Linked DNA regions of Homo sapiens. The protein of the gene in region 1 interacts with the protein of each later gene in a pairwise test. Each region holds a gene or a part of one and is shown in the gene's direction. Other genes may lie near its edges. The genes, in order: TACC3, KIZ, CKAP5 and SPATA18.

What was found.
Region 2: the proteins of TACC3 (region 1) and KIZ interact in binary tests that used the Homo sapiens proteins (3 or more experiments, as listed by UniProt).
Region 3: the proteins of TACC3 (region 1) and CKAP5 interact in binary tests that used the Homo sapiens proteins (3 or more experiments, as listed by UniProt).
Region 4: the proteins of TACC3 (region 1) and SPATA18 interact in binary tests that used the Homo sapiens proteins (3 or more experiments, as listed by UniProt).

The regions. Positions count from the first base shown.
Region 1 is NC_000004.12:1,731,521-1,738,544, forward strand, and holds part of TACC3 (transforming acidic coiled-coil-containing protein 3), read left to right. Parts: intron 1-3,752; coding exon 3,753-3,805; intron 3,806-4,210; coding exon 4,211-4,314; intron 4,315-5,720; coding exon 5,721-5,808; intron 5,809-6,077; coding exon 6,078-6,182; coding exon of another isoform or gene 6,183-6,194; intron 6,195-6,827; coding exon of another isoform or gene 6,828-6,872; exon of another isoform or gene 6,873-7,024. UniProt on the Homo sapiens protein: Plays a role in the microtubule-dependent coupling of the nucleus and the centrosome. Involved in the processes that regulate centrosome-mediated interkinetic nuclear migration (INM) of neural progenitors.
Region 2 is NC_000020.11:21,121,419-21,129,105, forward strand, and holds the start of KIZ (centrosomal protein kizuna), read left to right. Parts: upstream 1-4,697; coding exon 4,698-4,786; intron 4,787-7,687. UniProt on the Homo sapiens protein: Centrosomal protein required for establishing a robust mitotic centrosome architecture that can endure the forces that converge on the centrosomes during spindle formation. Required for stabilizing the expanded pericentriolar material around the centriole.
Region 3 is NC_000011.10:46,759,270-46,766,293, reverse strand, and holds part of CKAP5 (cytoskeleton-associated protein 5), read left to right. Parts: intron 1-1,037; coding exon 1,038-1,163; intron 1,164-2,663; coding exon 2,664-2,813; intron 2,814-3,114; coding exon 3,115-3,318; intron 3,319-3,531; coding exon 3,532-3,667; intron 3,668-3,794; exon of another isoform or gene 3,795-3,905; intron 3,906-4,100; coding exon 4,101-4,294; intron 4,295-5,509; coding exon 5,510-5,682; intron 5,683-6,851; coding exon 6,852-7,024. UniProt on the Homo sapiens protein: Binds to the plus end of microtubules and regulates microtubule dynamics and microtubule organization. Acts as a processive microtubule polymerase. Promotes cytoplasmic microtubule nucleation and elongation. Plays a major role in organizing spindle poles.
Region 4 is NC_000004.12:52,047,404-52,054,327, forward strand, and holds the start of SPATA18 (mitochondria-eating protein), read left to right. Parts: upstream 1-3,900; 5' UTR 3,901-4,301; coding exon 4,302-4,388; intron 4,389-6,924. UniProt on the Homo sapiens protein: Key regulator of mitochondrial quality that mediates the repairing or degradation of unhealthy mitochondria in response to mitochondrial damage.

The DNA.
Region 1 (7,024 bases):
TGGAAACTGTAGACTCAGGAAAATGAGCAGGAGAGGTGAACAATGCAGTGCGCTAATGAGATACAAGTGTAGAGTCAACAACTGGATACTCGATCATCAGAAATACTGCTTGAAACGACCTTCTTTTTTTTTTCTGAGATAGTCTCGCTCTGTCACCCAGCCTGGAATGCAGTGGCACAATCTGGGTTCAATGCAACCTCCACTTCCCAGGTTCAAGAGATTCTCCTGCTCAGCCTCCCAAGTAGCTGGGATTACAAGCATGTACCACCACATCCAGCTAATTTTTGTACTTTTAGTGGCAACGGGGTTTCACCATGTTGGCCAGGCTGGTCTCAAACTCTGACCTCAAGTGATCCACCTGCCTCGGCCTCCCAAAGTGCTGGGATTGCACGCGTGAGCCCCCGCGCCCGGCCCAGAACCCCTTGATAATGAAATGTGAAGCCTGAACCTTAGACACCAGACTGCAGTTAAATACGGTTTGTCCGTAAGACTGGAGGCTGCAGTTGAATACGGTTTGTCCATAAGATTGGAGGCTGCACTTGAATACGGTTTGTCTGTAAGATTGGAGGCTGCAGTTAAACATGGTTTGTCCATAAGATTGGAGGCTGCACTTGAATACGGTTTGTCTGTAAGATTGGAGGCTGCAGTTAAATAAATACGGCTTGTCCGTAAGATTGGAGGCTGCAGTTAAATAAATACGGTTTGTCCGTAAGATTGGAGGCTGCAGTTAAATAAATACGGTTTGTCCGTAAGATTGGAGGCTGCAGTTAAATAAATACGGTTTGTCCGTAAGATTGGAGGCTGCAGTTGAATACGGTTTGTCCGTAAGATTGGAGGCTGCAGTTGAATACGGTTTGTCCGTAAGATTGGAGGCTGCAGTTAAATAAATACAGTTTGTCCGTAAGATTGGAGGCTGCAGTTAAATAAATACGGTTTGTCCGTAAGATTGGAAGGTGGAACGGTCCTTAAATTAAAGTGCATTTGGTAGGAATTGATGGCTGAGTTGTTTTAAAGGACACACAGCCAGGTGGGTATAAGATCTCAATTTAGAGAACTGAAAACCCAGGCACACAGCAGACACGAATGGCATGTAGGGTTTGTCGCTGACAGGATAGTTGTGGGCCGCCACCATGTGGGGATATCAGCTCAGCTGGGATGGGCCTGTCACCCTCACGCAGGATCCCTGGAATCACACAGCACGGCCTTCTGTGTCCGGCGTCTCCCTCGGGGAGGTGTGTTTCCGAGTCCTGGCCATGCTGGAGCAGGTGTGGGTGCTCCTGTCCTTGCCGTGGCAGCTTGGCTTCACATCATCTTATCCATTCATTCATGGATTTGCTGGTTTCTGCTTTTTAGCTGTCAGGAGTAGTGCTGCCTCGAATGTTCAGGTGTAAGTTCTATGTGGATGTATTCTTCCATTTCTCCTGGATACATAGCTAGGAGTGGAGTCGCTGGTCACAGTAACTCTGCTCACCTTTTAGCTACCAGGTGGCCTTCCAGAGTGGCTGCAGTGTTTCACATTCCCACTGGCAGTTATAAGAGAGCTCCAGTTTCTCCACATCCTCGCCAGCGCTGCTTGTCTGTCTTGTTGATCCTAGACTTCCAGCGGGTGGGAAGCGGATCTGGTTGCGGTTTTGATTTGCAGTTCCCAGGTGGCTCATGAACGAGCGTCTTTTTATGTGCTCGTTGGATATCTTCTTTGGGAAAGTGTCTGTCGAGATCCCTTGTCCATTGAGCCACTTATGTTTTTATTACTGAGTTTTAAGAGGTAAATCCCTTTTATTCAAGAAGTGAGGGAAAGGAAAAAATACAAAGTTAAGTCCCTTATCAGATGATGTTTCAAAGTATTGGCTTTTGGCCAGGCATAGGGGCCCACACTTGTAATCTCAGCATTTTGCGGGGCCGAGGCAGGATTGTTTGAGCCCTGTAGTTTGAGACTAACCTGGGCAACATGGCAAGACCTCATCTCTACCAAAAAAAACCTTTTTTTTTATTACCTGGCATGGTGGCGTACACCTATAGTCCCAGCTGCTCGGGAAGCTGAGATGGGAGGCTCGCTTGAGCCAGGAGGTCAAGGCTGCAGTGAGCCATGATTGCACTACTGCACTCCAGTCTGGGCGACAGCGAGACCCTATCTGAAGGAAAGAAAAAAAAGGCAGAAATGAAAACTGACAACAAGGCTAGGTGCGGTGGCTCACGCCCGTAATCCTAGCACTTTGGGAGGCTGAGGAGGGCGAATCACCTGAGATCAAGAGTTTGAGATCAGCCTGGCCAACATGGTGAAACCTCATCTCTACTAAAAATACAAAAATTAGCTGGGTGTGTTGGCACATGCCTGTAATCCTAGCTACTTGGGAGGCTGAGGCGGGAGAATCGCTTGAACCCAGGAGGCGGAGGTTGCAGTGAGCCGAGATGGCGCCACCGCACTCCACCTGAGCAACAGAGCAAGACTCTGTCTCAAAAAAAAAAAAAAGAAAAGAAAACTGACAAGGCCATAGCAGAGAAGGACCTACAAGTTTTTGCTAGACTAAATAATTGGCAACCGTTTTTTAGCTTAATTGAGAAAAGGAGAGAATGAGCAAATACTGCTAGGCATGAAGAAAGGGACAAAACTAGAGATGCCTCAGCCTGGATCTCAGCCAGATCAAGACCCTGTCTTAAAGTACCAGTTTGGTTTGTTTTTTTCCCGAGACGGAGTCTTGCTCTGTCGCCCAGGCTGGAGTGCAGTAGCATGATCTCAGCTTGTTGCAACCTCCGCCTCCTGGGTTCAAGCGATTCTCCTGCCTCAGCCTCCCAAGTAGCTGGGATTACAGGCTCATGCCACCGTGCCCAACTAATTTTTGCATTTTTCGTAGAGACAGGGTTTCCCCATGTTGGCCAGGCTGGCCTCAAACTCCTGACCTCAGGTGATCCACCTGCCTTGGCCTCCCAAAGTGCTGGGATTACAGATGTGAGCTACTGCGCCCAGCCACAGTTTAAGAGTTTTATAGTTTTAGAGGCCGAGACCGGAGGATCACTTGAAGTCAGGAGTTCAAGACCAGCCCTGGCAACGTAGCAAGACTCCTCCTCTACCAAAACAAAAAGTAGGATAGTTTTAACTCTCACAGTTAGGGTGTTGATCCATTCTGAGTTAATCTTTGTATGTGGTATGAGGCACCTTTTCTTTTTTTTTGCAACAGTTTTCCCTCCGCTGCCCAGGTTGGAGTGCAGTGGCATAATCTCAGCTCAGTGCAGCCTCCACCTCCCAGGCTCAAGGAGTTCTCCTGCCTCAGCCTCCCTGTAATAGGAGTGCAGCACCGCGCCTAGCTAATTTTTGTATTTTTTGTACAGACAAGGTTTTGCCCTGTTGAACTCCTGGGCTCAAGTGATCCACTCGCCTCAGCCTCCACCCTTAGTTTTAATCAAAAGTTATATTATCAAAAATTAAAAGACTTGTCTAGGGTAATTTTAAAGACTAATAGTTCTCAACCAGAGCAGTTTTGCCCCCGCCTTTCCCCAGATGTTTGTGGTTGTCACACCTGGAGGTGCTGCTGGCAGGGAGTGGGTAGAGGCTGGGGATGCCGCTCAGCACCCTGCGGTGCCCAGGAGGCGCCTGCCGCAGACAGCAGTCAGGCCCCGAACATCCACACCTCCAAGGGAGGAAATACTGCTGGCTGGAATGATCCTGCCTCACTGAGTGCTGAGGGAGACACCAGCCCGCCGCCCTTAGGGCCCTGGTGAGGGGCGATGGCGGCGGCATGATTCACTCCTCTCAGTTCTAGGCACGGGCGCGGAGGTGGATTACCTGGAGCAGTTTGGAACTTCCTCGGTAGGTACCAGGCAATTCCGCGAAGCCTCACCCACAGGGTGTCCGAGAGCAGCCACGGCAGGTCTTGCCCCCGGAGCGTCCCTTGGTGCCCACGTCCCCCCAGCTGCACACAGGCCCAGGCATTGTGGCGGGCTGTGAATCCAGGGCCCCTTCTGCAGCACCTCCTCTAAGTGGTGTCCTGTGGCAGGGCTCTAGGGCTCTCTACCTGGTGCCTAGCCCAGGATGAAACTCTGACACGCTGTGCTGCTGGGAATGGTGGTGTCTCGGGCAGGGTTGTGGGTGACCGGGGGTGGGAGTGTGCGGGTGACCGGGGGTGGGAGTGTGCAGGTGACCTCCCTGGCCCTTAGCCCCCGTGTGTGTTAGGGGATGGCAGTCAGACCTGATCACTTGCCCTCTTGTCCCCAGTTTAAGGAGTCGGCCTTGAGGAAGCAGTCCTTATACCTCAAGTTCGACCCCCTCCTGAGGGACAGTCCTGGTAGACCAGTGCCCGTGGCCACCGAGACCAGCAGGTATGTGCGCCGGCCCTCCCTCATGCATGAAGCCTTGAGTGTGGGAAGACTGGAGGCTGTTCCTAGGTGTGCTGTCTGCACAGAGGCTTCTAGACCGGGGGGAGATGATCAGAACTGGAAAGGAGCTGTGCTAGGGGTGGGCTGGGCAGCAAGGCCAGAGCAGCCCTTGTGTGTCTGGCAGGAGCAACGGCAGCCTACCCTCCAGCCACAGGGCTGCTGCCTTGCTGGTTACAGCCACCGTTCTAGGTATATTAAAGATCTAAACTTAAATCTTTTAAGAGTACTTCCTCTAAAACAGAGGTCGGCAGGCCAGGCGCGGTGGCTTACGCCTGTAATCCCAGCACTTTGGGAGGCCGAGGTGGATGGATAGCCTCAGCTCAGGAGTTTGCCACCAGCCTGGGCAACATGTTGAAACCCCGTCTCTACTAAAATACAAAAATTAGCCGGGTGTGACGGCATGCACCTGTAGTCTCAGCTACTTGGGAAGCCGAGGCAGGAGAATTGCTTGAACCCAGGAGGCGGAGGTTGCAGTGAGCTGAGATTGCGCCACTGCACTCCAGCCTGGGCAACAGAGTGAGACTCCATCTCAAAAAAAAAAAAAAAAAAAAAAACCAAAAAATAGAGGTCAGCAAACTATCACCTGTGGGCCAGACTTGGCCACTGCCTGTTTGTGTAAAGTTTTATCGTCACAGAGCCATGCCCGTTCCTTTGCAAATTGTGGCAACTTTCACACTACAAGGCCAGAACTGAGTAGTGTGACAGAGGCTGTGTGGCCTTCAAATCCTAACACATGGCCGGGCGCAGTGGCTCACACCTGGAATCCCAGCCCTTTGGGAGGCTGAGGCGGGTGGATCGCCTGAGGTCAGGAGTTTGAGACCAGCCTGGCCAACATAGTGAACCCCCATCTCTACTAAAAATAACAAAAATTAGCCGGGTGAGGCGGCAGGCGCCTGTAATCCCAGCTACTTGGGTTGCTGAAGCAGGAGAATCGGGTGAGCCTGGGAGGCAGGGGTTGCAGGGAGCCGAGATCATGCCACTGCACTCCAATCTGGGTGACAGAGTGAGACCCTGTCTCGGAAAAAGAAAAAAAAAAAGGCTCTGAGCTGTGAACAGCCCCCTGATGAGGCAGCACTGGCTCCGCTCAGCCTGCAGTGGGTAATGAAGCGTCACCGTGCTCTCCCGGAAGGACAAGCAGCCACGTGGGATGGGCAGGTGAGGGAGGGGGGCACGGAGCAGCAGAGAGGCCGGGCATGCTGGATGCGGGTCTGCGTTTTCTACCACTACCCTGACTTGAGTGGTTTTAAACTAAAAAGCAAAGAGCCCGGTTAGCTTGTCCACATGGTCCTCTGTGTCCTACTCAACACTGGGAGGGCCTAGTGACTGAGGCTGCCTCTGCTTGGTGGCAGCATGCACGGTGCAAATGAGACTCCCTCAGGACGTCCGCGGGAAGCCAAGCTTGTGGAGTTCGATTTCTTGGGAGCACTGGACATTCCTGTAAGTCCTTGAGTCCCTCTTGAACTGTCTTGTGTGTGGTCTGAGGGAACGAGTTGTTTTAAGGGCCTATATTTTCTATTCCTGGGGGTCTGAGCCTTTGGTTTTGTTGGGGGCATGGGGCCGCTGTGCTGTTCCCTCGCCGCACTGTCTCGGGTCCCTCATGCACTGTCTGAGGCTCTTGGCCTGTGTGGGCCTTTCCTCCCTCACACTAGGTCAGAGGTAAGAGGCAAGGGCGAAATGGGTTCCTGTTTCATCCCCATCTCCCGCAGGTGCCAGGCCCACCCCCAGGTGTTCCCGCGCCTGGGGGCCCACCCCTGTCCACCGGACCTATAGTGGACCTGCTCCAGTACAGCCAGAAGGACCTGGATGCAGTGGTAAGGACGCAGGTAGTAGCTATTCCACAGAACCTGCAGGCCGCTCTGGGGCTTGGCCAACAGTGGGCAGGGGTCCAACAGCCTGACCCGCCATCCCTGCCATCCCTGCCCCTGCTGGTTGGGGTGGAATTGCAGAGAGCTGCCGGCCCCTGGCCTGTCACTACTGCCCAGGTCGCTGAGGGTCCAGGCTTCCACCCAGTGTCCCCGCAGTCAGCTGCCCACCAGCAGCCTCCCCGGGACTCTCCGGCCTGGGCATGGCGTTGGCCTCTGGTGGCCTTGCAGCAGTGAGTGTGGTTCTTGCTGCCGTGAGCCCGAGTGTCGCCCCTTTCCTCCCGCCCTCCCACGAGTCCAGACGCATCTCCTGGCAGCTTAGGAAGCTCCATCTTCACCCACCCCACATCTGAGGGTCCCGTGCCTTGTCTCCCTCCATCCTCACTGTACATGCCAGGCTTCAGCCTGTTCTAACTCCGGGCCTAAATTGTCCCTAAGAGAGCTGTAGGCACACAAAGGGGCTGGGTGTCTGCAGGCACCACTGTGAGCTACCGTCGCCAGATGGTCCCCAGGGAGGTGCAGACAGGGTGGTTCCGGAGGCCGGCTGGCAGGGCTGGGTTCAAGCCCCAACATCCACACCAGTGTTGTTCACAGTGGCCCCAGGTGTCATCTCCGCAGAGGCCTGTGATGTGGCCCTGACCCCGTACCCCAACAACCTCCTTCCCTGTGTCAGAGCCCGTGTGAGTAACCCAATAGCAGGCCTGGGGACCACAGTGTGGCTGGCCCCCTCCTCTGCAGGCCTGGGCTCCGGGGGCAGGTGGCCCCTGCATGTAACTTATGTTAGAAATGCA
Region 2 (7,687 bases), on another chromosome or scaffold:
CAGCCTGGTCAACATGGCAAAACCCTGTCTCTACTAAAAATACAAAAATTAGCCAGGTGTGGTAGTGTGTGCCTGTAATCCCAGTTGTTAGAGGGTGCTGAGGCAGGAGAATTGCTTGAACCCAGGAGGCAGAGGTTGCAGTGAGCTGAGATTGCACAACTGCACTCCAGCCTTGGCAACAGAGTGAGACTCCATCTCAAAATAAATAAATAAATAAAAATTAAATTAAAAATTCAATTTCTCAGTTGCACTAGCCATATTCAATTGCCCAATAGCCATGGCTAATGGCTACCAGATTGGATATGTCTGCATAATGACTGCAAAATGAAATCTTGTCCTACTTTCATATCTATCATGGATTGAAATGTGTCCCCTGCACAATACATATGTTGACGTTCTAACTCTCAGTACCTCAAAATGCAGTCTTCTTTGGAAACAGGGTCAATGCAGATGTAATTAGTTAAGATGAGATCATACTGGGGAAGGGTGGGCGTCTAATCCAATATGATTGGTGCCTTCATAAAAAGGCAGAATTTGGAGACACATACACAGGTAGAACACCATGTGAACATGAAAGCAGAGGTCAAGATGATGTGTCTAGAAGCCAAGGAACACCAAAGATAGCCTGCAAACCACCAGCAGCCAGGAGAGAGGCATGCGGCAGATTCTTCCCCACAGCCCTCAGAAAGAACGAGCCATGCAGATATCTTGATCTTCAATTTCTAGCCTCCAGACCTGAAACACAATAAATCATGTTGTTTAAGACACCTAGTTTGTGGAGCTTTCTTACAGCAGCCCTAGCAAATTAATATAATATCCAAGCAGTTATTGACTAAATATACATGATTTAATTAAAAGCAGCATAGTGTGTACATTTTAAAATATAAAATGCTACTGCAGGCCAGACACAGTGGCTCACGCCTGTAATTCCAGCACTTTGGGAGGCCAAGGCAGGTGGATCACCTGAGGTTGGGAGTTCGAGACCAGCCTGACCAACATGGAGAAACCCTGTCTCTACTAAAAATACAAAATTAGCCAGGCGTGGTGGCATATGCCTGTAATCCCAGCTACTCAGGAGGCTGAGGCAGTAGAATCGCTTGAACCAGGGAGGCAGTGGTTGCGGTGAGCTGAGATCATGCTATTGCACTCCAGCCTGGGCAACAAGAGTGAAATTCCGTCTCAAAAAAAAAAAAAATTTCTGCTGCATTGAGAGGCCGAGATGAATCAGAACAGGACTTGTTGGGTTTCCCACTCAATTAGTGTTAGATCATGTCCCCTTTGTCCAATCACGCTTCTACACGACTGTCGATCATGCCTATCCAATAAAGTCCCCATAAAAGACCCAAGGGGACAGGGTTCAGGAAGCTTCTGAGCTGGCTGAACATGTGGAGGAGGTTCCTGGAGGGTGGTGTGCCCGTGGAGGGCATGGAACCTCTACACCCCTTCCCCCAGACCTCACCTTATGAATCTTTTCATCTGTATCTTTTGTGATATTCTTATAATAAACTGGTAAATGTAATGTATATATACATATATATGGAAATATGTTGAAATTAGAATTTCCCAATATTAGAATATATGTACAATTCTAATTTCAATATATTTTCCAGAATCAATTTTGTTTTTGAGCTACAAAAACAACAATTTCATTTGGTTCACCCAAAGATTCATGTGACTTCTGGGCCGAGACACTGGCTTCCCTTGCTGTTTGCTTAATGGGACCACTAGGGATCCATATTTTGAACTAGACTCGTTAATATTACATAGATTTCCAGCTAGGTGACTTTGGCCAAGCCCCTTATCTGCCCTGAACCCTTTTTCCCCTGTAAAACAAGGGGGTGGGGCTAGACTCCCTCTAAGTTCTAGCTAAGACATTCTAGGACTTAGAGGAAGCCTTGATCTAGGCAGACTTGATGACCCTTGGTCCAGTGAGCTAAAAGCAGGGCTGCTTACAGAAATCAGCTCAGCTAAATAAAGAGTTTGAAGAAAAATATTAAAATAGAGGGCTCTGGCAAATTAAATATTCAAAGTGAAGAACTCAGAATTTATTGAAAGCCTGTCACCATTTAAAATGCATAATTTTAGCATAAATACTCTAGAAATATTCCTTTTGTTTGCTATGTGTTATTGTTAATAAAGGAGATCCTACATCTAGATTTGTCATACGTCATTAATGAATCAACCATAGGATGTAAATTATAATTATTTTGAATTATCTATTTACTGTTTAATTACATTTAATTTTAGATTCTCCTAAAATGGCCTAATAAAAATTTTGGGTGCTAAATGACTGCCTCATCTGCTTACTCTGTGCTACTTGCTAAAATTAGTTATATTAATTGTTTGGGGATTCTTTTTCTTAAAAAAAAAAACTAACCCTGGGGGCATGGTCCTAAATAAAATATCCTAAAAATTTAATGCTTTTCTTTTCTTTGCCAGGGTTGTAGTAAAATGTTAGTTACACTAAACTCATTAAAATAAACCTTTGCACATTACCACTGAATCAATTGGATATAATCTGAATAAAAACTAAATAAAAGTCACATCAGTGCTACCCTTGGACCAGGGCAAGAAGGCCTCTGCCCTGGCTTCTGTGTATTAGAGGTTCTGTTCTAGCCCTTCTCTGCCCATGCTGCTCCACGCAAGGCAAGGAGGTCCCAGGGCCAGATGACAGGCCCACCTGGGGTGCTCACACACATACACACACATGCTCTTCTAGAACACGTTCTAAGTACCCAACACCCTTACCTTCCCTGCTCAAAGGGGCCCAAGCTGCTTTCTAAGGCTTTAAAAGGCCTCTTGGCTGGGTCTTTCCTGCAAGGGTGACCATCACTGGCATGCTCACTGCCCGGCCAAGAGGAGGCTGAGGTGGGGATGTAGGCAGAGTTGGGACTTGCTGGCTGGAGAAGAGGAGGAGAAGAGGCAGGGCACACACATCCCTGCTAGTGTATGAGACCCCCTCACAAAGCAAGACTGAGCCTGGGGTGGGAAATGGAGTTGGGGGGAGCTGGAGAAGCAGGCAAACTAAATTCCACCCTGGTTGTCCAGGTTCTTAAGAAGGCATATTGGTCAAAGTGGAGAGGAGAACACGTATTTTACCTAAGTTTGTTATCTTGAATTATAATTCAATATTTAGGCGGATGGTATGAGGGCCTCCATTCACACTCTTGCCCTGGAACTGGCAAATGTGAATGGAAGGCTGAGTAAAATCATAGTTTTGTGTTGTTGGCCTTTGAGTGTTCCATCTCTCTTACAATTTTAGTTTGTCACACCTTGCACCTTGTATGTGTAAGTAAAATTAATGGCATAGGAAAGAAACCAAAAGAAGTGAACAATAAGAGACTAAAGAAACTCTACAGGCCGGGCATGGTGGCTCATGCAAGTAATCCTAACACTTTGGGAGGCCAAGGTGGGTGGATCACCTGAGGTTGGGAGTTCAAGACCAGCCTGGCCAACATGGTGAAACCCCGTCTCTCCTTAAAATATAAAAAATACCAAAAAAAACAAAAATTATCTGGGTGTGGTAGCGCACACCTGTAATCCCAGTTATTCAGGAGGCTGAGGCACGAGAATCTTTTGAACCCGGGAGGCAGAGCTTGCAGTGAGCCGAGATCACGCCACTGCACTCCAGCCTGGGCAACAGAGTGAGACTCTGTCTCAAAAAAAAAAAAAAAAAAAAGGAAAGGAAGGCAGAGAAGCAGGCTAAGGCTTAATTTTTCTGCCCAGTGGGTTTTGAAATATGGTTGGCTTCCTTCAGGAAGCTTTTTCCCGACGTTGGTGATGATAATAAAACCTGATGCTTTCTATGTGCTGGGCCCACTTATAAACACTAACACATATTAACAATCGAATCCTAAACTAATCCTGTGTTAACAGCCTCCCACTTTACATATGAGGAAACCTGGGGTGACTTGCACACGGCTTGGCAGCTGGGACGTGGATAGGGAATGTACACCCAGGCAGTCTGGCTCCCGGGCTCCTGCTAGAGGATCCTACAGGACATTAGGAGCATTGTCCCTTAGAGCTGTCTGCACAAACGTCTGCTTCCCAAGCAACTAGTTATCAACTTTTCCCTCTCGCCAACGATACTGGCACCTGGAACAATCCTTAGATTCAGCACGGATTTTCGAGTAAGGGGTTGGTCCACTGTCGGGGCTGAGCACGGCTGTTTAGCATTTGAGGGTTTGTCTTTTTTTACTTGGTGTTTTGTGTCGCTTTTGAGTGCTGATATAATAGAACAAGCTTAGTACAGTGCCTGGCACTCAACAAATCCTGGCAAGAAAGGAGATCGAGGAAAAGAAGCAAGCGAGAGACGAAAGAAAGGGAGGGAATGCGCCTTGTAACATTAACGTAGCTTGTGCGAATCCTGGAAGGTGAGGGGAAAGGAGACACCGCGTCAAGGGAGAGAGGAGAGGGCACCGAGCGCCCGCCCCTCCGACGTGGTCCGCCCCGGCCTCACGACGCCCCGCCTCTGCCACGCCTCTTCCCCGCCCCATGCAGGTCTTCGTCCCGCCCCCCACAAAGCCGGCTTCCGCCCCGTCCCTCAGCGGCGCCCCGCCCCCACGGCGTCTTGCCCCGCCTCCTGCAGGCGGCCCGGCGCGGTGTTTACCCGCGGTGCATGGTGGGGCGGTCTCCTTCGGCAACCCCGGCCGAACGGCCACCCAGAGGCTGTGCTGAGCTGGCGCAGCGGCAGCAGCATGAGCCGGACCCTCGCATCGGCCGTGCCCCTGTCGAGTCCCGACTACTACGAGAGGCTGGGCCAACTCCAGCACGGGCTGCGGGACAGGTAAGGGCACTGGGGCGGGGGTGGGGAGTCGGCCCGCGCCGGGGGTCTTCCGCGTGCCCTGCCCCATTTTCCTTCCCGCTCCCCCGTCCGAGGTTCCCCGGGGCCCAGGCCCGCGCGCAACGCCCCCCAGGCTCCCAGTGGGGCCTGGAGGACAGTGTTTACTAGAGCCACCCCCTGTATTGGGGGTGGGAGCGGAGAGAGGTGAGAGACCGCCCCCGCCCCGTCAATAGCAGCTAAAGCCTGGTCTACGGTTTGAGGATGCGGCCGCGTCACAGAATTTGCCCAGAAGTGAAGGTGGGAGTTCTTCTGCCTGTCACTCTCCATCAAGCCTTGTGAGTTTCTCTTGTCCCCTTTTACACGCCCCCTCCCCACTCTCTTCAAATTGCCATCCCGCCGTGACAGCTGCACTGCATCAATGATGACAAGTCCTGGAACGCAGACGGTTGTGTGTGTGTGTGTCAAACATGTGCCCCCGTTTAAACTCAGGAGACTTTTAGGGGTAGCGAGGGCTGGCTAGATTTCCAGCGAAGGGATGAAATTTCCAGCTAGAGAAGTCCAGCTTCCAGAGGGTTCATGATGCCTTTGATTAAGATATGAAAGATGGGAACCACTGAAAACAGCTAGATCTAAGAGTGCATATAGAGAGAAAATTATACCGCAATGTACTATGAATAACCACGTAAAAGATAAATTGCTGGACCTCTTATTTAGCTGCTAAGTTAATTGGAGTTGTAACTCTCATTAGTTGACAAGAAAGGAAATACATTTTTGGATCTCTTGATAAACAAAACATTTAATGAGTGTTAAAAGTTACAAAATCATTCTAGTGAACAGGAGAGCTGTGTGCGTGACAGTGCTAAAATGATAACAATAATTACATGGAAAATAAAGGCAGAAGTGAGCGATTTTGAAAAGGAATTACATTTATCTTACGCTAGATTTAATTCTTGTCAGATATTTATAGAGCATCTACAACAGGCTTCCTTAATTGTCGTTAGCATTTTTTTTACCTTGTACTCCTTTTCTACGTCCTATTTTCTTTCTGACATGTCACCGCTCACCCATATCAGTGACCTCTTAATTTCTGACTTTAAAAAGAAATCTCTTCCTGTAGAGCCTTCCCTGTTTCAACCCATTCCCTAACTTTTGTGACTCTTGGCATTCTTACAGCACTCATAAATGGCATTCTTTTTGAACTATTAATTGTAAGTTATTTTTGTTTCCTGTGCTAGGAACACCTGGCTGTTTATAGTCCTTATGGCACAATAACTGTATAATAATTATGTACTTTATGATTAACACTTATTTAATTATTAAACAAGGTGAGGCTGTTGAAAATATATAAGGAATGTGAATCAAATTTTATAGCCTGTTCACGGTTCTGCATTTCGAGATTTGTTTTATTTTTAAGTCAGTACAAATCTGTTGCTGTGTGTGTTCATTTTTCATTTTAAGAATTTATAACTAACTCAAATTAATGCACACTGGACACAGTTATAGAGGCAAATAATTCTAGATACAGAAAAGGCTGCAGTAGAAATATCAAAACCTGGATTCTAGTCCACGAACAATTGTGTGACCTTGAGCAGGTTGTTCCACCTCTCTGAACCTTGGTTCTTTACCAGGAATGAGGGGGCTTGACTAATATGCAAAGTAAGGCCACAGATTTTTTTCTTTCTCTCTTTGCTAGAATAATGGGCCTTAAAGTAAAAAAAGAAAAAAAAGCTGAAAGCTGTAGTTTTGCAAAGCAATGTGTAAAGAATATTATTGTCTGTATCCAATTTGAGTGTTTGGATGTACCTTTTTGTTTGTTTGTTTATTTGTTTGAAACATAGTCTCACTCTGTCACCCAGGCTGGAGTGCAATGGCATGATCTCAGCTCACTGCAACCCCCACCTCCCAGGTTCAAGCGATTGTCCTGCCTCAGCCTCCCTAGTAGCTGGGATTACAGGCGCCCACCACCAACCCCAGCTAATTTTTGTATTTTTAGTGGAGATGGGGTTTCACCATGTTGGCCAGGCTGATCTCGAACCCCTGACCTCAGGTGATCTGCCTGCCTCTGCCTTCCAAAGTGTTGGGATTACAGGTGTGAGCCACTGCACCCGGCCTTGGTTGTACCTTTTTAAACAAAGAAACACAAAGCATCCCACTGATCACAGATACCACTGTCTCCTAAAATTCCTGAGTCATTTCATAGGGAGCAACCCTGGGTAGTCACAGCTGCTTTATCAATCCAGAAACTTCTGGGAAGTGGGAGACAAAAAAAAACTCCCTCTTTCTCAGCCCTTTTAGAGGTGGTCATTGCAATGTTAGCTGGTCAAATAACCAGCATATTTCCAGCCCAAGTCATGTTAGCTGTAGTTACACGTAGATGTAATTTTATCGTCTGAATGTTTTCCTATGTGTGTACAGTGTTTTTTCTGCATTGTGGTGAAAGTCAATAATTGAATCTAAAAGAGTCTAATGGAGTGACTTGTTACAGTGTGTATAGCACCCACAAGCATGGTAGAAACTTATAAGTGGAATTGGCTCTTACGGTTATACAAAAACATCCTTTTAAAAGGGCCCATTAGCCAGCCGCGGTTTTTTCAGTGCCTATATTGATTCAGAGTAAGATATCATAATAGTCTAGAAACTGACACTGAGATATTAGTAGAGTAAGCTGAAGATGGTATAGAATTGTGGTATCGAGACAAAAACAGAATAACAAGTGGCTTAAAAGTAGAAAACTCAGCAAGATAAGGACCACTTAGCTGTGTAAAACTGAAAGGTCCAAGTGAGGGGTGACTGAAAACATGAACTATGGGTAAGCATCCCAGGGATGGGTATTTCAAAGATTCTGAATAGAGATTTAATATGTAAGAATTGCAAGCCATGGAAAGGCTTTTCATTGAGGCAAAT
Region 3 (7,024 bases), on another chromosome or scaffold:
AATTTTTTTCCCAATCTTTTTAAACTTACGAAGCAGTTTCATATAAATGATCTCATATTTGTTTGGTCTGAATGACATTAGTGTTTATACTAGAAAGAAATTGTGGCCAACTAGAAATAGTGGCCATGCTACATTTATAATAATAATGATTCCAGTAATGAAATTTGAATTTTACCTTAAATATGTGTACTATTGTTTACTATTTTCTTTCTATCTGATATGAAGATTTTAAATCTTGGATTATTTTTTAAAACCACTTTAGTGACTTAAATATTTAAAGCATTTCTTGTAACTTTCTCTAGAAGCAAGTTCAAAAGGTCTTCAGTTACACTGTTATGATAAGAGATACATTTAAATATCAATGGAAAGAAACAGAAAAGCTTTCAAACTAAGTGTTTGGAAATGTGTAAATGCCATTCAAGATGTCATTAATGGCTGAGGTGGGTGGATCACTTGAGGTCAGGAGCTCGAGACCAGCCTGGACAACATGGTGAAACCCTGTCTCTACTAAAAATACAAAAATTAGCCAGGGGTGGTGGTGGGCGCCTTTGGTCCCACCTACTGAGGAGGCTGAGTCAGGAGAATCACTTGAACCTAGGAGGTGGAGATTGCAGTGAGCTGAGATCACGCCACTGCACTCCAGCCTGGGCGACAGAGTGAGACTCCGTCTCAAAAAAAAAAAAAAAAAAAAAAAGATGTCATTAATATGGAAAGCTATAAATAGTGTTGAAGATTTCAAGAAAACAAAAACAAAAAGTTTGTGACCTAGACTAATGATCAGTAATAGCAGTTTTTCCAACTACATAACATGCCAGTCCAAGAACTAACCAACAGTTACTTAAGAATATTCTCAGAAAAATTTCTAGAGAACCTGTTCAAAAACATATACAAGATTCTGTGATGCATGTTTTTTTCATGTGAAATATCACGTAGAAAGATATCTCTGTTTTCTACAGTGCCCTTTTACTGGGCAGCAGCATCATATTCTTAAGGAGAAGTGGCCAAGCTAATCAGTATTCCCTGAACCTTGGTTGTAGAGTGCACAAGGGAAGAAGATGCCAAGCAAAACCAGCTTAAAGGAGGATGAAGACAAATCCGGGCCTATTTTTATTGTTGTTCCAAATGGAAAAGAGCAAAGGATGAAAGATGAAAAAGGATTGAAGGTAAGGAAGGATTAAGAATCGTCAGGAGATTTTTGCTTGTATTGTTATTCAAGAATAGTTTTGCTGTCTGAATTCATGTTATTGTTTAATATCTAGGAATTAAGTGTTTCTTTTGCTTATAAATTATATTATTTAGTTTATGGGAGCATTAATTCCTACAAAAGAAACTATAGAATAGAGTTATTGCCTATTTTTCCCTGTAAATAGAAATAAATGATTTAGTAGCTTTTTTGGTATCTTCATTGATTTTTTTTTTTAATTAATTGGATGTATAAGCTTCTTCATTAATCCTTCTTTTTAAGACCTTACAAGGCAGACTTTGTGACTGTATAAATGGCTAGTTCAGTCATTTATGTTACTTTGATTTCATTAGATACTTAAATTTGTTTTCAAAATACATAATCTTTTTTAAAAATTATATGCAGTACAGAAAGTGCAAAGTATAGTAAGAAAAGCATGTCTCTGTTCCAGTATCCCTCCACAGGGAGGATATTAGTCCTCATTTTTTCAATGTATTACTCCAGAAATATTTTATACCTCTACTATCATATGTATATTTTTATATAGCCCTCCTTTTATACAGATGGCATATACAGACATGCCGTACTGTTTGTTCTGTATCTCACTATTTTCTTTTAATGATGTTTGAAATATCTGAAAGATCATTCGTATCTGTGTATATATGTGTGTATCACTGTTTGTATTGGTGCATTGTATGTATGTACCTTTCTTTATCCTTCGCCCACTATGTTGGACATTTAGGTTGTTTCTGGTCTTTCACTATTACAAACACTGCTGCTGTGAATATCTTTGAATGTAGGTCTTTGTACACATATGTGAGTGTATCTATATTAAACTCCTAGAATGATGATATGCATAATTTTGATAGATATTTCAAATTTTCTCTCTATCAAAGATGTGGCAGCAGTGTCCACCATGTTATATAGTTATATGTAGGATTAATTTTTTTTTTTTCTTTAGTAAGAATTGCAAGGCCAGGCACAGTGGCTCATGCCTGTCATCCCAACAATTTGGGAGGCTAAGGCAGGCAAATTGCCTGAGCCCAGGAATTCAAAACCAGCCTGGACAACATATTGAGACTTCATCTCTACGAAAAAAATTTTTTAATTAGCTGGGCATAGTGGTGCATGTCTGTAGTCCCAGCTACTTGGGGGGCTAAGGCAGAAGAATCACTTGAGCCTGGGAGGTTAATGCTACAGTGATCTATGATCATGCCACTGCACTCTGCCATGCCCAGGCAACAGGTGAGACTCTGTCTCAAAAACAAACAATTCCAAAAATTTTTATTCCTAGAAGATTTTCAGAGTTGTTAAGCTTCAAGAAGTATGACACCTTGAAATTTGCATTCATATTTAATTACAAATGAATATTGTTGAATTTTTAAATATTTTATTGTTCCTGCAGCTGCATTATATAAGGCTCTCTACCTCATTTCAGTTGAACACCCTGTAGCCCCTTTTCACCGTTTGTTTTTTCCAGGTGCTAAAGTGGAATTTTACTACCCCACGGGATGAATACATTGAGCAACTAAAGACTCAAATGTCTAGCTGTGTGGCTAAATGGTTACAAGATGAGATGTTTCACTCAGACTTTCAGCATCATAACAAAGCCCTTGCTGTTATGGTTGATGTAAGTCTGCAATAGATAAATATACATGTATTTCAGACATGTAAAAATACCGAGCCCTATGAAATAATCTGAAGTTTGCATGACTTGGAAGTAGAATATACTATGTTCTCTATTTTTAGAGCTGTCTTGTTATTTGGTAGAATAAATGAATGTGTGTGTATATTTTTTAGGTCTTAATTGAAGGCTTAAAAATCTGTCATTTTCTTTTTGGGCTCCAATAAAATTTAAAAGACACTTGCCTAGTAGAATTAAGATTTTGATTATTCTTATTTGTGGGAGTTTTGTTTTGTTTTATTTTAAGCACTTGGAGAGTGAAAAAGAAGGAGTTATTGGTTGCCTGGATCTTATCTTAAAGTGGCTTACCCTGAGGTTTTTTGACACCAATACAAGCGTCCTGATGAAAGCACTAGAATATTTAAAATTGCTCTTCACCTTGCTAAGTGAAGAAGAATATCATCTTACTGAGAATGAAGCATCTTCCTTCATCCCCTATCTTGTCGTCAAGGTAATGTGGTGTTCTCTCTCTGGGAGACTGCTTAAGTTCCCAGCTGACCTCAGTTTCTGTACTTTTATTTCCTCTCCCTTTTTTACTGATTATATCACGGTACCTTCCCTACTTATCCCTATTTCCCTATTCTTTCAAAACATAGTAATGCATGGGAGAATCATTGCTACTTAGGAAATGCCTCACTTAATCATTATTTTCCTTATCGACTAGGTTGGAGAACCAAAGGATGTCATTCGTAAAGATGTTCGTGCCATCCTGAACCGGATGTGCCTTGTCTACCCAGCTAGCAAGATGTTTCCCTTTATCATGGAAGGAACCAAATCCAAAAACTCTAAGCAGAGAGCAGGTGAAGCAAACAGTTTAAACTGAGATGTGAATCTCTGCAGCAGTAGCCTATAGAAGAAATAGTTTATAGATGAACAAATAAATTTCTCCAGTGCCTATGTAGTTGATTCCAACCTCCTGATTTAGACTGTGAGAGTGATGAGTTGCACACTGGTGGAGCCATGGTATCAGGTGATACAGGCACCACTCAGTATCACCCTGGTGACAAAATCAAGTGCACAGGGGCCATCTGACTCACAGGCATCTCTTCCTTTCAGGAGCACTTGCTGAAATACCATTTTTTCACTGATAAAAGGCAGTAAACAAAAAATCCTAGGCAGAGCCAGAGTAAGGTTTTAGTCCTTCATATATGCCAAGGGAAATTTCTCTAGTAAGGATAAGTCTCTGTCCCAAATATGTGTTGTCTCATTAATCTAGCCTTTCTCCCCCATCAGAGTGCCTGGAAGAGCTGGGATGTCTGGTTGAGTCCTATGGCATGAATGTTTGCCAACCAACCCCAGGAAAAGCCTTAAAGGAAATAGCTGTTCACATAGGAGACCGTGACAATGCTGTACGCAATGCTGCACTCAACACCATTGTAACGGTGTACAATGTACATGGGGATCAGGTGTTCAAACTGATTGGAAATGTGAGTGACTTCTCTGAACACTGTCAGCATGTCGTGAAAAGAATTGCAAGATCTCCTAGGTGTTAGGTTTCCTGTCCTCTCAACTGTAGCTAAGTTTTTACTACTTTTTAGTCAACTCAACCTATCAATGTGTCCTAGAATCCAGATAGACCCTTGAGGTGTCTCTGATTAGGCTGTTTTAATGGAAATCAAGTTTTCTTTTCTGAGCATTCTATTCATAGCAAATTTGCTTTAGAAATGAGTGCTATTTTTGAATCAAGAAATCTGAGCTAGTCCCGGGTTTAAATTCTGCCTGGCAGTCTGCTCTGTAATTTTTACTGCATCGAGTTTTTGGTTAAAAAGTGCTTATTTGTGTATAGTGTGGATGCTAGTATCTGTCAGATCACATCTTGCGCTACAGCCGTGAGCCAGTTTTTCACTCACATTAGGTTCTGCCTCTGACCTCTTATTTCGTTTGAGTGAGTCTGGACCTCCGTCTTCAGTTACCTCATAGTGTCACCATGTATTTACACAGGGCTTAAATATGTTTACTTATATTTTCTAATTAAATTCTCACTACTACCCAGTGAAGAATATAAAGCAGTTGGGAATTTTACAGATGACCAAAAATGAAGTTTCTTGCCCATAGTCACACAGCTAGATAGTGGTGACAAAACAAAAAATGAGGAAGCTTCATTTAATTTTTGACCTTTTTATTTGTAGTTACTAATTGGCTTTCTTTTTTTTATCGTTTCTTTTTTTTTTTTTTTTTGAGACAGGGTCTTGCTCTGTCACCTAGGTTGGAGTGCAGTGGTGTGATCATGGTTCACCGCAGCCTCGACCTCCCAGGCTCAAGTGATCCTCTGACTTCAGCCTCCTGAGTAGCAAGGACTACAGGCGCGTGCCACCACACCCAGCTTATTTTTATACTTTATGTATAGATGGGGTTTCACCATGTTGCCCAAGCTGGTGTCAAACTCCTGGGCTCAAGTGATCCTCCTGCTTTGGCCTCCCAAAGTGCTGGGATTACATGCATGAGCCACTGTGCCCAGCCCCTCTCCTTCTTTCATATCTCCTCTTCCTATAGCAGCTAGGCAGGTATTAATAGTAGTTGATTTTGAAATGTGGTGCTTTGAAAGTAAACATGTCCTAACATAGAAGGTTCTATTTGTTTTGATATGAAAATAGATATTATTGTGTTATCCAGTTAGGTTTCTAAATTTGGCCTCTTTACAGCTTTCTGAAAAGGATATGAGCATGCTCGAGGAGAGGATTAAGCGGTCAGCAAAGAGACCCTCTGCTGCACCAATAAAACAGGTGGAAGAGAAACCTCAGCGTGCACAGAACATAAGCTCCAATGCCAACATGTTACGCAAGGGACCAGCTGAGGACATGTCTTCCAAACTCAAGTATGTAGATAGAGATACTTGTCTGAGAGCATCTCCATGGCCTTTGCCTTGTGTGCTCACAGCCTGTCCTGTAACATAATCTTGAGTTCTTGTAGCCATTATCATGCATGACAGAGTGTCTGGGTAAATGTATTGTAACCAAATGTTTGATTCTTCAGTCTTCATTGTCTTTGTCTTTGTCTCAAAACCACTTCTAAATGGTCTTGTGCCTTCTTTCACTGCTTTTCCGTGGACAGAATTATGTATCGCACTTATAGGATGTAAGTACTGCCTGCTAATTTCTCATTAGCAGGGCTCTTATATCTTTCTAACTTCTGACTTGGATTCATCCCCTCTGGAGGGTGACTAGCTTAGAGTTTATAATCAGGGTAGAGGGTGTCCATAAGTACCCCATGAATCAAGTCTTCCACAAAAGTTCAATGTCATGTGGCTAAAATACTGATTCACTTTCTTCTTTGTGTTATACTTGGTTGTGCTTAGTTTCCTATTCTTGAGATAAGGCTAATTAAAATACATGCAACCCAAAATTGGCTTAGGGACTCAAAATACTGCCTCCTAAGCAAGACAGCTCTATTTTGGGTTGTGTCATGAGTATAATTTTAACGAACTTGAATTTGGAAACTTTGAATCCCTATTTCTTGGATGTAAAGCTGGCCCTGACCTGTCAAGAGTGAATATTCTAAAAAGGGGTGACTGGTGGTCTCACAAAATATAAAATGTGCTGAACACGGCATGGAATGGTACTTATGATTAGCAAAATTAAAGCACTGGTTAATTTGGTGGAAAAGAACCAGCCAGTCTAAATTTTTCTTATATATTTGCTCATAAGTAGTGAACTTTGAGTCAATACAAATATATTTTATTGTTTTCTGCCCCTTCAGGAATAGAAATACAAGGTTTGTTGGCTTTAGTGAACTAGAACAAATACTTATAACTTGGCAGGTAATGTAAGTACAAATTAAAGTTATCTGCCCTCTTAGGATATTCATGAACCAATGTTGTTACCTATTAAAGGCACTTGCTTAGACTCAGGGACTTAAATCATTCAGGGGGGCTGAAACCAGAAGTTGAACATCTGTCCTGAAGCTTTGGGGCAACTGACAGTGCTACTCTTGCCCTTTGGTTAAGAAGTCTCTTTTAGTTCAGGAGCCTCCTTTTGCTTCCCTTAGCCAAGCCCGAAGCATGAGTGGGCATCCTGAGGCAGCCCAGATGGTCCGCCGAGAATTCCAGCTGGATCTAGATGAGATTGAGAATGACAATGGTACAGTCCGATGTGAAATGCCAGAACTTGTTCAGCACAAACTGGATGACATTTTTGAGCCAGTCCTTATTCCTGAACCCA
Region 4 (6,924 bases), about 50 Mb from region 1:
CTCACATTTCAAAAGCAATCATGCCTTCCCAACAGTTCCCCAAAGTCTTAACTCATTTCAGCATTAACTCAAAAGTCCACAGTCCAAAGTCCAAAGTCTCATCCTAGAGAAGGCAAGTCCCTTCCACCTATGAGCCTTTAAAATCAAAAGCAAGTTACACGTTGTGCACATGTACCCTAGAACTTAAAGTATAATAAAAAAAAAAAATCAAATCAAATCAAAAGCAAGTTAGTTACTTCCTAGATACAATGGGGATACAGGCATTGGGTAAATACAGCCATTCCAAATGGGAGAAATTGGCCAAAACAAAGGGGCTACAGGCCCCATGCAAGTCTGAAATCCAGTGGGATAGTCAAATTTTTTTATTTTTATTTTATTTATTTATTTATTTATTTATTTATTTATTTATTTATTTATTTTTTTTGGTGACAGAGTCTTGCTCTGTCACCCAGGCTGGAATGCAGTGGTGTGATCTCAGCTCACTGCAACCTCCATCTCCCAGGTTCAAGTGATTCTCCTGCCTCAGCCTCCTGAGTAGCTGGGATTACAGGCACCCGCCACCACGCTCAAGTAGAGACAGGGTTTTGCCATGTTGGCCAGGCTGGTTTCAAACTCCTGACCTCAGGTGACCCACCCACCTCAGCCTCCCAAAGTGCTGGGATTACAGGTGTGTGTTACCGCATCTGGCCAGTCAAATCTTAAAGCTCCAAAATGATCTCCTTTGAGCCCATGTCTCACATCCAGGTCATGCTGATGCAAGAGGTGGGTTCCCATGGTCTTGGGCAGCTCTGCCCCTGTGGCTTTGCAGGGTACAGCCTCCCTCTGGGCTGCCTTTACAGGCCAGTGTTGAGTGTCTGTGGCTTTTGCAGGCACACAGTACAAGCTTTCTGTGGATATACCATTCTAGGGTCTGGAGGACAGAGGCTTCTCACAGCTCCACTAGGCAGCACCCCAGTAGGGACTCTTTGTGGGGGTTCACACCCCACATTAACCTTCTGCACTGCCCTAGCAGAGGTTCTCCATGAGGGCCCCACCCCTGCAGCAAACTTTTGCCTGGGCATCTAGGTGTTTCCATACATCTTCTGAAATCTAGGCAGAGGTTCCCAAACCTCAACTCTTGACTTCTGTGTACTTGCAGGCTCAATACCACATGAAAGCTCCCAAGGCTTGAGGCTTGTACTCTCTGAAGCCATGGCCAGAGCTCTACATTGGCCCCTTTCAGCCATGGCTGGAGTGGCTGGGACGCAGGGCATCAAGTCCCTAGGCTGCCCTGGAGACATGCCCTGGAGATATTTTCACCATTGTCTTGGGGATTAACATTTGGCTCCTTGTTACTTATGCAAATTTCTGTAGCCCGCTTGAATTTCTCCTCTGAAAATGGGATTTTCTTTTATATTGCGTTGTCAGGCTGCAAATTTTCTGAACTTTTATGCTCTGCTTCCCTTTCAAAATGGAATGCCTTTAACAGCACCCAAGTCACCTCTTGAATGCTTTGCTACTTAGAAATTTCTTCTGCCAGATAACCTAAATCATCTCTCTCAAGTTCAAAGTTCCACAAATCTCTAGGTCAGGGGCAAAATGCTGCCAGTCTCTTTGCTAAAACATAAAAAGAGTCACCTTTGCTCCAGTTCCCAACAAATTCCTCATTTCCATCCACCTCAGCCTGGATTTCATAGTCTATATCATTATCAGCATTTTGGTCAAAGCCATTTGACAAGACTCTAGGGAGTTCGAAACGTTCCTACATTTTCCTGTCTTCTTCAGAGTCCTCCAAACTGTTCCAACCTCTGCCTGTTACTCAGTTCCAGAAAGTTACTCAGTTCCTAAAGTGCTCCACATTTTTGGATATATTTTCAGTGGCGCTGCAATCCCCATAAGAATTTACTGTATTAGTTGGTTTACAAGCTGCTGAGACGGGGCAATTTACAAAAGAAAGAGGTTGAATGGACTTACAGTTCCACATGGCGAGGGAGGCCTCACAATCATGGTGGGAGGCAAGGAGGAGCAAGTAACATCTTATATGGGCGGCAGCAAGCTTGTGCAGGGAAAATTCCCTTTTTCAAAACCACCAGATCTTGTGAGACTTACTCACTATCACGAGAATAGTACAGGAAAGACCTGACTCCATGGTTCAATTACCTCTCACTGGACCCCTCCCACAACACGTGGAATCCAAGATGAGATTTTGGCAAGGACTCAGCCAAACCATGTTAGTAACTGTTTGGGGTAACTTTTTTCTGAATAAGTTTTCATACAAACAATTCATATTCATGATAGAAACTTGAAAAAATCAGAAAAATATAAAAGAGCAATTAAAATAACCCACAATTATACCTTGGGTTCACATTGTGTAATTTAACACAGTGTATACAATTTAGTGTTCTGCCTTTTTCGTTATAGTGAAAATTTGTAGATAGTATATATTCTACAACAACAAGATTTTTAGTGTGCAACATTTCATTATTTGCTTAACCATTACCCTATTGTTGGAGGTTTAGATTGTTTACAACTAGTTTTCTTTATTAAATATAAACATACTAATCCACATTCTTAATAATAGCAAATGTAGGCCAGTATTAGTTTATATTTAATAAACAGCAATTACTAGAGCAATTGCTACTGCATTTTGCCAAGCATTGTACTAAATACATGAATTATCTTACTAAGTTTCATAATAATCCTATGAGAGAATTATTTTCCTTTTACAGATGATGAAACCAAGGATTACAGGCTAATTAAGGTGCTCACAGCAAGGAAAAATCCTTTACCTCTAATTTATCTGACATAAATGTTCCAATATGGGTTTTTATGAATAAGTAAATGGGACTGTTCAAAGATTCCAAATGCCTGTAGAAATATGTAATTATTAGGTCCAAATTGAGAAATTTGAAGTTTTTCTCAATTCATTTTACATATATATATATATATATATATATATATATATGAAGTTGTTTAATGAATATTTAGCTGTTTTGTTGAGTGGGTATTTTTAACATTAGAAATTATTATTCTACTCCAATCAAATAACATGTTATACCCCTATAGTCCTTATTTTGTGGTCTACAGAAAATAGTAGGAACACAGGCTCCAAAACTGAGCCTTTCATTTTCATTAGCAGATAGTAAAGCCACTGTAATCAAGAGAAATAAAAAATGAGAGGTGGTGAAAATTCTTGATTTTACAATACTTGAATATATGCAGTGTTCACAGATTTTCAAGTACCTACAGAGATGAAACTAAGTTAAACTAGCTAGCTAACCAGCTGAGGCTCTGCTCCCCACCGCTGTTTTAATGAATGGATAGGAATGATTTATAATCAGCACATTTTTTGATGGTATATAAAAGAGCTTGCTTCGAAAGCGCTTAAAGATGGTCGAAATGGTTTCCTAAGTAGTTGAACCTGTTTCTGTAGCAGAATACACACTTTTGAAATAGTGCCAAACTAGGTCAAGAAAGTCCCAATTAGAGAATTCAGAATTAAATGAAGCTTTAGAGTGCTCAATGACTCTAAAAAAAAAAGTACTAAAATACATACTGCCAAATCTTATCCAAACCTGAGGGATTAACTTTAATTTGTGAACATCCTGGAGCTAAACTCTATTAACTTGGGTACCCACCCAGTGGGTCAAGGAACAAAGTAAAAGCTAGAAGTAAGAAGTACTGAAATTTTAGTTACAAGTTTCATACAGGTAAACCCAAGGCGCTACAAATGAAGAATTAAAGGAATGAAAGGCGAAAGAATAAAGGGGCCAAAGAGGTGATCTCCTGAGAGCCTAGCCCCAAACTTCTATAGAGACTTAACTTCTGCTTTTCTGGACACGCGTGGGCACCCAGAACCCCGAATGGGGAGGAATGCTGTAGACGCCCTGCTGCCCTCCAGCCCGCGCGGCTGCGCGTCTCAGTCCACCCCTGGGGCGCGCGGCTGTCACCCAGGGCGGGGCGGCGCGGGCGTTGCCACGACGCGGGCCGCGCGCGTCCCTGGCAGCCAACCCGTCCACGTCAAGGTTTGTTTAATAATCGCCAGGGTATCTATGGCCGGGCTCAGGCGGCTGCTGGGGAGCCAGGAGACCGCGCGGGACGGCGGATGAGGCGCGGCGGCTGCGGCCCAGGGCACCTCCCCTCTGGCTTCCCGAACCCGGCCAGGTCCGACCCGAGGGGGAGGATGGAAACACCTGCCGCGCTCTGAGCCCCCCAGAAGAGAACACCCTTCCCGCCATATCACCCCACGGTCCTGCGGAGGCCACCGCCTGGTCCCCCCAAGTCTCCATCGCGCAGCGTGGGGCCGAGAGGAATAGTGAGCGATGGCGGAAAACCTGAAAAGACTGGTCTCAAACGAAACTTTACGAACGTTGCAGGAAAAGCTAGACTTCTGGCTGAAGGAGTACAACGTGAGTCTGGGTGAAAAACCCCCGGGGTTCGCCCTCCCATAGGTTCCAGCACAGCCCTTGTCGGGGATTTCTTAGGGCTGGAGTTGGTGGCCACTTTGCAAAGCCTCCGCGGTTGCGATTCCTAACCAGGATCTCAGCTTTCGACCGGGATCGCTGGGGAAGGAAGGACATGTGTGTACATGCCCTTGTCTCAGAGCTTCGGGAGGCGGCGCGCAGGCGGCCTGCGGAGCGCAGCACTAGGCTGCGGAGACTGGAGAGTGCTTCCAATCAGTGGTAACTAAGGACGCCGGCGACCTAGCAATAGGGAAGCCCTGCTGTCCGCGGCTGGTCTGGTCATGCCTGCCACTCTTTCCCATCCCCCTTGCCAGCGCAATCCACACCGCCTGCTTCCCCAATCCCGAATTATTTTTTACTACAACCCTCTCCTGCCCAGGGTTTGTATCAGAATGGATTTGTATAAACACACACCCAGGAGTTATTTACCCAGAAATCAGCGAAACGGACACTTGTTAACGTTGCGGGTTTCACTTGCGTGCTGGTGGGCCTGGAAATTGAGGCACAGTTCCAACACCAGGGCGGATTCAGGCCTTTTTCCAGGCATTTGTGAGAAGCCAGTATTCTGTCACCAAACCCATGAGCACTTTTCAAATCTCATTAATCCCTACTCGCACCCTGCCTCCCCATAATTCCCCCCTTCCCCCAAATAGAACGGTGAGTGTTGAATTTGCTTTACATTCGGTCGGTCCGTCTTAAATAGGGATTTCCCCTCTTACATAATAAGTGGAGCGGCCAGGCAAAAGAACTGTGGACCGGAAATTAGCCCCCCCTTGTTTCTACATTTGGCTCTGCATAGAACTAGCTGAATGACGGAGTCAAATTATTTAACTTCTCTTGGTCTTAGTACCTCATCTGTGAAATAGCAGAGATTGGTCTAGATGATATGTAAATTTCCTGTTCAGATTTTAAGTTTTTGAGCCTAGATTAGCTTGTTTCTGAGATCCTGCCTGTTATGAGGTCCTTAGGCTTCCCCATTCACCCTTTAACCAGTGCTCCTGAAGTGGAGGGGAGCTCAAAGAGCAGCTACAGCTTTCTCCTTAGCCTTCCTTTCTAGTGCTTCCTGTTCAGTCCTTTGCTCCCTTTTAAAGAACAAGCGCTGACCATTCCTTCTCCATTAAGAATTCTGGAAAGTTAAAATGACCTCTTTATCATAAAAGACTTGGGTTCCCCCCAACTAATTTTAAAAGTACCTACTACTTAGTCTCAGGAGGTTGAGAATAAGAAATTCTAACATGTATACAGTATTTACCCCTTTTTTTTTGCCCAGTGGCCTAACTAAACTCTGAATTTTAAAAAAACATGTTGTTTGTCACAATGTTTATTACAAATAACACTAGGATTTGTCTGGAACTAATAAACAATTATTTTAGAAACTCCCTGTAAGTGATGAGAAGTGCCTTAGTTTATTACATTTTCCTGTCTTGATAACATCCCATTCTCTGCTCTCATTAAAACCATTTCCATCCAGCTGTTTTCCCTTCATCTCTCTACAGTAGAGGCTGCACTCACAGCCACCAGTGTTTTTCATACCTTGTGGCCACTCCCCAGGTTCCATCATTTCTCTTGAGTTTGCAGGCATCATTATCACATTGGAATGTTGACACCTGTATTCTTCCCCCTCCACTCCTGCTTCATCTGTTACAAGTATGCTGATGAATCTTATTTCTATAGGATGTGTTCCCATCTGAGCTCTCACTTCTCCAACTGCCCATTGGACATCTTTCAATAGTGAATGCTATTGAAATGCTCAGAATGCTCAAAGTCAAATCTGTCCAAAATGGAATTTAGCCTCTCCCATGCCCCAACCACAGGTCTCATTTTTCTAAGTCGTCTTCATCATTATATACTCCACTCCCTTTTCACCATCATAATCTGTTGGTTCTAACTTCAAAGTTCATACGGAATCTAAACACTTTTCACCACCCCCACTGCTACCACCCTTCTCCATCCTTGATCATCTTTCACCTGGATTATTACAAAAATAACAACCCAAAGAGATGCTTCTAAATGTCAAGTCAGATCAAGTTACTCTTTTTGCAAGACACTCCAAATTTCCTATTTCAGTCAGAAGAAGCCAAAGCTCCTACAGTGACCTTCAAAGTCCTACACAATTGTGCCCCTTTAAGCTCTTTAACCTTATCTGTTACTCTCTCCCTTGCTCAGCCCACTCCAGCAGTACCAGCTTTCTTGCTCGTCCTAGAGCAATGCTGTCCAATAGAACTTTCTATGATGATGGACAGGTTCTATATCTGCATTGTCCAATAAGGTGACTATTGGGCACTTGAAATGTGGCAAGTACACACTGAAGAACAGAATTTTTAATTTGACTTAAGTCCAATTTAAATTCAGATAGCCACATGCAGCTCATGGCTGCTGTCTCAGACAGCACAGTTCTAGAGATGTGGACATGCTTCTGCTTCAGGGCATTTGCACTCACTGTTTTCTCTGCCTGAAAAACTTTTCACCTGTTGATATTTGA